Linked DNA regions of Homo sapiens. The protein of the gene in region 2 purifies or fractionates together with the protein of the main gene of each other region. This does not show direct contact. Each region holds a gene or a part of one and is shown on either strand. Other genes may lie near its edges. The genes, in order: P4HA1 and RNPC3.

Region 1 (3,478 bases), on a different chromosome or scaffold from region 2:
ATGTCGGAATGGTATGCACTGTTTCTGTAAAGTGACATCTTTCAGATACTTCGTGCCTTTTTGTATATACATACCCTTGATGGCCTGAGCAGTTTCACGAGTGTTCTTAAAGTGAACACGAAGATTGGAACCTCTTGATTTGCATGATTTTGTGGGGTTCTCCGGGTCAAGTGAATAGCGAACCATTTTCAGATTACCTCAGGCCACTTAGGAAAGAGCATCATATTTCTTAATAGGAGAAAGTCTTAAGTACCACTATTGTAATAATTTTTTTCTTTTTTGAGACAGAGTCACTCTGTCACTCAAGCTAGAGTGCAGTGGTGCAATCTCAGCTCACTGCAACCTCTGCCTCCCAGGTTCAAGCGATTTTCCTGCCTCAGCCTCCCAAGTAGCTGGGACTACAGGCATGCACCACCACACCCGGCTAATTTTGGTAATTTTAGTAGGGATGGGGTTTCACCATGTTGGCCAGGCTGGTCTCGAACTCCTAGCCTCAGGTGATCCGCCTGCCTCGGCCTCCCAAAGTGCTGGGATTGAAGGCGTGAGCCACCATGCCTGGCCCATAATAACTTCATAACCACAGTAAAGTATTTTAGAGCTCTCTTTGAAGGAAGCACATCTTGATTCATGAAATATCTGAAACTTCAGAGAGCCTAAGTTTTTCTTAACCATGTGACATTAGTGTGAGTGGAAACCAAGAGTATAAACCTAAGCCCTATGTACTAAAGAAATTACATAAGTTAACCTGTTACTGCCACATCATACATTCGGATTTAAATACGAAAAACACCACACAGAAAACAAACATTTTTTTAAAAAAGATTTAAGATCATAAATAGGTCATTGTTGTCACAACACATTTCAGAATCTTAAAAAAACAAACATTTTGGCTTTCTAAGAAAAAGACTTTTAAAAAAAATCAATTCCCTCATCACTGAAAGGACTTGTACATTTTTAAACTTCCAGTCTCCTAAGGCACAGTATTTAATCAGAATGCCAATATTACCACCCTGCTGTAGCAGGAATAAGAGGCAAGGTATTAGCACTAAGAAAAACAGCAAAATTCCTGAACAAAATCATCTGTCATTTTAAAAAAGGGATAAAAAAACAGGCTAAGTGGTGAGCATTTTAGTTAAGAAGGCCCAGTGTTGTTATGCAGGACTTTCCATTAAAAAAAAAAAAAAAATCGAAATATTTTAACTCAAGTACGTTTAATTCACCACAGAGGAGCTAAAAGAAAAGAGAGGGGGTTGGTAAAATACAGTATACTTTCTTTAAAAAAGACTTGGGAGGAAAAAAATCAACTTAGAAGATCATATGAAAGGGCAATCACATGGAACCCAGTTAGTGTCCTAGTTTATTACTAGTCTTCAGATCCAGAAAACAGAGTAAGACACTAGGTAAACAGAACACCTAGGCACATCTGTAAGGCATTTGTTTCCTATCACACAGCCCATTCTAGCTTAACACCCACCAACTGAGATGTAGTGAAATACTAAAACTGGATGCTCAAATTATGTTTTTATCCAACCAAAAAGTTCTTTAAATATAAAATTCCTCACTTTAAACTCTGCCTTGTCTTCTGTGATACCAACAGAACTTTAAGGTTTTATGCAATATGATGATTTCGTGTTACTTTTAAAAGAACCCACAAAGTAAGCAATTGTCCACAGATGAAACATGGGATGAGGTTCATGACTGAATCAATCATGGAGTGTTAGTCAATTGTAAACTCCTGAAAGTTAAGACTAGGAAATGTGTATATCAGACACATAAGAGTACAACAATAGGAGAAAAAGGGAAGCCTGTTTGTCATTCCAATTCTGACAACGTACAAGGTCTTCGAAATTCTTGTCCACGTTCATGGAGCCATTTATTGGATACTGTGAGAGAAAAGTAATATATTAATTTTCCCCCTTAATCTAATCAGTATTTAATTAGTTTCTAAAAGCTAGGTCTATAACAAAGTTTCATCATGGGATAAAAGTTCAACACCAAAACCGGATAAAGGCAGATGCTACTTAAAAACTTGGCTAAATGCTGAAAACACAGATTTTATATACCTATATACATATGTGTACACACTTGTGTGCGTGTATGTACATACATGTATGTATACACATGTATATTTGCCAGTCTATGTGCATTTCTTACAGTTTCCAATGTTCAATGTGAGGCTTGAAATGAGACACAAATGGACCTAAGATACAGGTACAGGTAAGAGTAGAATATTGCTTTATGTATTGTTTTCAAAGTACAGCCTCCAAAATACAAAGACAATAATGAACACAAACTTTGCACTCTAAAGGAACAACTCTCTTATCAACCATTGCTATTGTATGCTCATCAAGTTTCCAAAATACCTTTAAAAAATGTATACCATGTAAAAATGTATCCCAAAAGCAGTTAATTTTCTATTTTTTTTTTGTCTCTGGTACCATAGAACCCAGTCAAAATATCTAAAGCAGGAACCTTAATTCTTAACTCTTTTTCCTTCTTCAACCCTTGTATCTACACTTTATTCATCAAACCCTGACAATTTTCCTTACATCTCTCTCAAATCTATTTGCTCTCCAACCCTTTCACTGATGCTTTAATCCAGGCCATTATCATCTCCCACTTAGACAACAGAAAACAGCTTTCTAAACTCTCTCTCACCAACTAGCCTCTCCTCATTCTAGTCCAGTGGTTCTTAAACACTATAATCATAAGGGGAGATTTTAAAATCCTGATCAGGCCTCACTCCTTAACCTTGTAATGTCCTGTATGTAACCACTCAACATGTGGCTAGTAACACAGATTGAAATGGATACATGGGGCTAATTAATAGATATTAAAACTAATTTTACCTGTTTCTTTTTACTTTTTAAAAATGTGGTCCTGCACTTGCATGTCCCTGACTGAGAGTGAGTGCCTCTTTAAATTTTGCACATTAGGTGCTACTCGAGCCTCACATTAGAACCTGGTATCTAACATGTTTGGAAAACTGCTGTTCTATCTTCAGGACCAAATTTAAAGAAAAAGCTTTGAAGAAGACTCCCCAAACTTAGGCAGTCACCATCTTCTGTTTACATTTTTGTATTAATATGTACTACATTATAATCCATTAGTATGTCTCAATCAGATTATTAACCCTTTGAGGGGAAGATATTGTCTTATTCAATTTTGAGTCAGTCATTGTTTCTTGGAATAAGTAAAAATAGTTAAAAATAAAATCTGTCATCAAAATTCTGATTTCAAATTTGTATTATGATTAGGCACTTGTTTGGCTGAATCCTGTACAATGTTAAAATCATATTAAGCAAACATGGGGGCTTTTGTTTTTAAGACACAGATAATAGTTCCAAAATAAGAAACAAAAATTACATTATCTTCGCAGAATATATGAAATATTTACCCCATTTGTTGCCAACTAGCACTGGACAGGCTGCATGCCGTGTACTATAATCTCCTTCTCCACTGGCAAACAGATTATACC
Region 2 (3,828 bases):
AATTTTAACATTTTCATAAAGCTTATTTTGTCTATTTAACAATTAGGTTTCAAAATTGTAATTATCTTTAAAAACTTGCTTAAAATATTTTAATTTTATATCTTTGTTTTTTGTTTTTTAATAAGAAATGGAAACACTTTCAGTTTTCAGAAGTTATGAACCGGGTGAACCAAACTGTAGAATTTATGTAAAGAATTTAGCTAAACATGTTCAAGAAAAGGTAGGTATAAATTGATTTTTTTTCATGTAAATGAAAATAATTTGAAGGTTTTATAGTTGATGTGTTAAAGTCTGTTTGAAACTACCTTTAAGAATGTGGTTTTCTTACTGTGCTTCAGGGCATGACAAATTATTGTTTAGTATTTTCAGGTTAATTTTTTATTAAAATAATACTCTCATAGCTTGGGTTCTCTGGCAGTAAATACTGAGACAGAGTTTGTGGTATGTATTAATTTCCTAGGGCTAAGTGGCTGAAACAACAGAGATGTGTTGTCTCACAGTTCTGGAGGCAAACTGAAGTCAAAAGTGTGGCAGGATTGGTTCATTCTGAGGGCTTTGAGTGAAGGATCTGTTCTGTGCCTCTCCCATAGCTTCTGCTGGTATGCAGAAGCTGGCGAACTTTCACCTTCCTTGGCTTGTGGAAGCATCACCACAATTTCTGCCTTTGTACATAGCATACTCCCTTTGTGAGTATCTGTCCAAATTTCCCCTTTTGAAAGGCCACCAGTCATATTAGATTAAAGCCTACCTTAGTCCAGTATGACCTCTTCTACTGATGCATTGATGTATTTATTTATTTATTAAGTTTTTTTCCCCTGGCTTTGTTATTTGTCTTTTTCTTATTGAAATTCTAGGACCTTAAATATATTTTTGGAAGATATGTTGACTTTTCATCAGAAACACAGCGGATCATGTAAGTGACAGTAAAATACAATCTTCAATTATATTTTGTTTTTATCTATTACAAATTTACCACTATTTTAATCCCATCATTTTCCTTTTAGAGATAAAAATTATATGAAAAAGTTCGTCTATTCTGTTGCACAATTAATCTTTTAGATGTCTAGAATAGGAGTTGGCAAACTTTTTCTGTAAATGGGCAGATAGTAAAAATTTAATATTTTTATTTTATTGCAGACCATACAGTGTCTGTTGGAATTACTCAGTTTTGTAGTTGTATTGTGAAGGCAGCCATGAAACCTGAATGAATATTCATGGCTGTGTTCTAATAAAACTCTTTACAGAAACAGGTCGGTGATGGATTCCGACCGTAATCTTCCCTCTAAATACATGGTTCTCAGACTTTAACATTGCATAAGAATCACCTGGAAAGCCTGGCAAAACAGTTTTCTGGGCCCACCTGCAGAGAGTCTGATTTTCTAGGTTTCATGGGTAGGACTCATGAATTTGTTTCTAAAAGGCTCCTGGATGATGCTGCAGCTTCTGATCCAAAGACTATGCTTTGAAAACCATTCTTTCAATGCATCATCCAGGAATATGAAGCAATGAGTCAAAACTTTTTAGATTCTTATTCTGACAGTAGATTGTCATCTTTTAAAAGAACTGCATTGAGCAAGGCTTCCAGTTTTGTAAAAGCAAAAGAGAGGGTTGTGATTTATAAATGTTATAAAAGCTAATGTGTTAGTCTGTTTTCACACTGCTGATAGACATACCCGAGAATGGGCAATTTACAAAGGAAAGAGGTTAAATGGAAAACTCACAGTTCCACCAGGGAAGCCTGGATCCAGGCATTTCCATATATCCTCTGAAATCCAGGTGGAGGCTCCCAAACCCCAGTTCTTGACATCTGTGCACTGGCAGGCTTATCACCATGTGGGAGCTGCCAAGGCTTGACGTTTGCATCCTCTGAAGCCACCACCCAAGCTCTTTGTTGGCCCTTTTCAGCCACAGCTGCCGTGGCTGGGACACAGAGCACCAAGTCCCTAGGCTGCACACAGCACAGGGACCCTGGGCCCGGCCCACAAAATCACTTTTTCTTCCTAGTCCTCAGGTGATGGGAGGGGCTGCCATGAGACCTCTAACATGCCCTGGAGACATATTCCTCATTTTCTTGGGGATTAACATTGGGCTCATCATTACTTATGCAGATTTCTACAGCTGGCTTGAATTTCTCCTCTTTCTTTTCTGTTGCATTGTCAGACTGCAAATTTTCCGAACTTTTATGCTGTGTTTCCTTTTAAAACTGAATGTCTTTAACAGCACCCAAGTCACCTCTTGAATGCTTTGCTGCTTAGAGATTTCTTCCGACAGATACCCTAAATCATCTCTCTCAAGTTCAAAATTCCATAAATCTCTAGGTCAGGGGCAAAATGCCACCAGTCTCTTTGCCAAAACAAAGAGTTTGCTAAAACATAACAAGAGTCGCCTTTGCTCCAGTTCCCAACAAGTTCCACATCTCCATCTGAGACCACCTCAGCCTGTATTTCATTGTCCATATCATTATCAGCATTTTGGTCAAAGCCATTCAACAAGTCTAGCGAGTTCCAAACTTTCCCACATTTTCCTGTCTTCTTCTGAGCCCTCCAAACTGTTCCAACGTCTGCCTGTTACCCAGTTCCAAAGTTGCTTCCACATTTTTGGGTATCTTTTCAGCAGTATCCCACTTTACTGGTACCAATTTACTGTATTAGTCTGTTTTCACTCTGCTGATAAATACATACCTGAGACTGGGCAATTTACAAAGGAAAGAGGTTTAATGGAAAACTCAAAGTTCCACGAGGCCAGGGAAGCCTCACAATCGTGGCGGAGGGCAAGGAGGAGCAAGTCACATTTTATATGGCTGGCAGCAGGCAAAAAGAGAGAGCTCGTGCGGGCAAACTGCCATTATTTTAAAACCATCAAACCTTGTGAGACTCATGTACTATCATGAGAACACAGGAAAGACCCACCCCTATAATTCAATCACCTTTCACAGCGTTCCTCCCATGACACATGGGAATTGTAGGAGTTACAATTCAAATGAGATTTGGGGACACAGAGCCAAACCATATCAGCTAATGTTTGGAGTTAGAATTTCATTCTTTACAATACCGTATTTGTTAATTCCAAAGTATGAAAGACTCCCTGTCATATAAATTAAAAGTAAGAAGAAGTAGAAAAGGTAAGAGGCTTTTGAGTGCAGATAAAATAAAGAAGTGACTATAACTAAATTTTGTTTTAATCTTCAAGTGACACCAATACTTTACAAATCTTATCTGGCCTATGTATTTTTTTAGATAGGTATACACAAATGGAACCGTGTTTCACAATTCTCTATTTATATCCATTAGGGGCAAATACCTCTTCTTACCAGAATGCCAAAATATATTTTTTCTGCTGGCCATGCAAAATGCTAGGTCTTTTTCTTTGTTGCCATCTTTGAGTCATGATTATAAGGAAAAAAAAATTACTTTACTGCATTTTTTGATAGTTTTTTATGTATTACTTTGGTAGTCTCATAGACTAAATATTAGGTAATATTTCAGTTGCAAATTACAATCTGATTTTTCTAAGTAGCTTTTGACTATGATTTTCTCTCAAAAATTTCAAAAAATGGATACATGGAATAGTAGATCACTATATTAGGAATTTAAAAATTTGGTTTGTGTTTCTGACTTTAGATCTTAGCTATCTGCTTTGAAGAGTCACTCACTGTCTCTGGACATCACCTGTAAAATTATGGTTTTAATTAGATAATCATTGAGGTTCCTTTCTACTCCGAAGTTCTGTAATTGCTTATAATAATATAATGAACTCTAGGCCAGGTGTGGTGGTTCATGCCTGTAATCCTAGCACATTGGGAGGCCGAAGCGGGGGGGATCACTTGAG

What was found.
Region 1: the proteins of RNPC3 (region 2) and P4HA1 purify together in Homo sapiens (affinity purification with mass spectrometry; one large-scale study listed by BioGRID and IntAct). This does not show direct contact.

What each region holds. Positions count from the first base shown.
Region 1 is NC_000010.11:73,006,410-73,009,887, forward strand, and holds the end of P4HA1 (prolyl 4-hydroxylase subunit alpha-1 isoform 2 precursor), read right to left. Parts: coding exon 3,398-3,478; intron 1,884-3,397; coding exon 1,813-1,883; 3' UTR 808-1,812; downstream 1-807. UniProt on the Homo sapiens protein: Catalyzes the post-translational formation of 4-hydroxyproline in -Xaa-Pro-Gly- sequences in collagens and other proteins.
Region 2 is NC_000001.11:103,546,123-103,549,950, forward strand, and holds part of RNPC3 (RNA-binding region-containing protein 3), read left to right. Parts: intron 1-125; coding exon 126-220; intron 221-854; coding exon 855-913; intron 914-3,828. UniProt on the Homo sapiens protein: Participates in pre-mRNA U12-dependent splicing, performed by the minor spliceosome which removes U12-type introns. U12-type introns comprises less than 1% of all non-coding sequences. Binds to the 3'-stem-loop of m(7)G-capped U12 snRNA.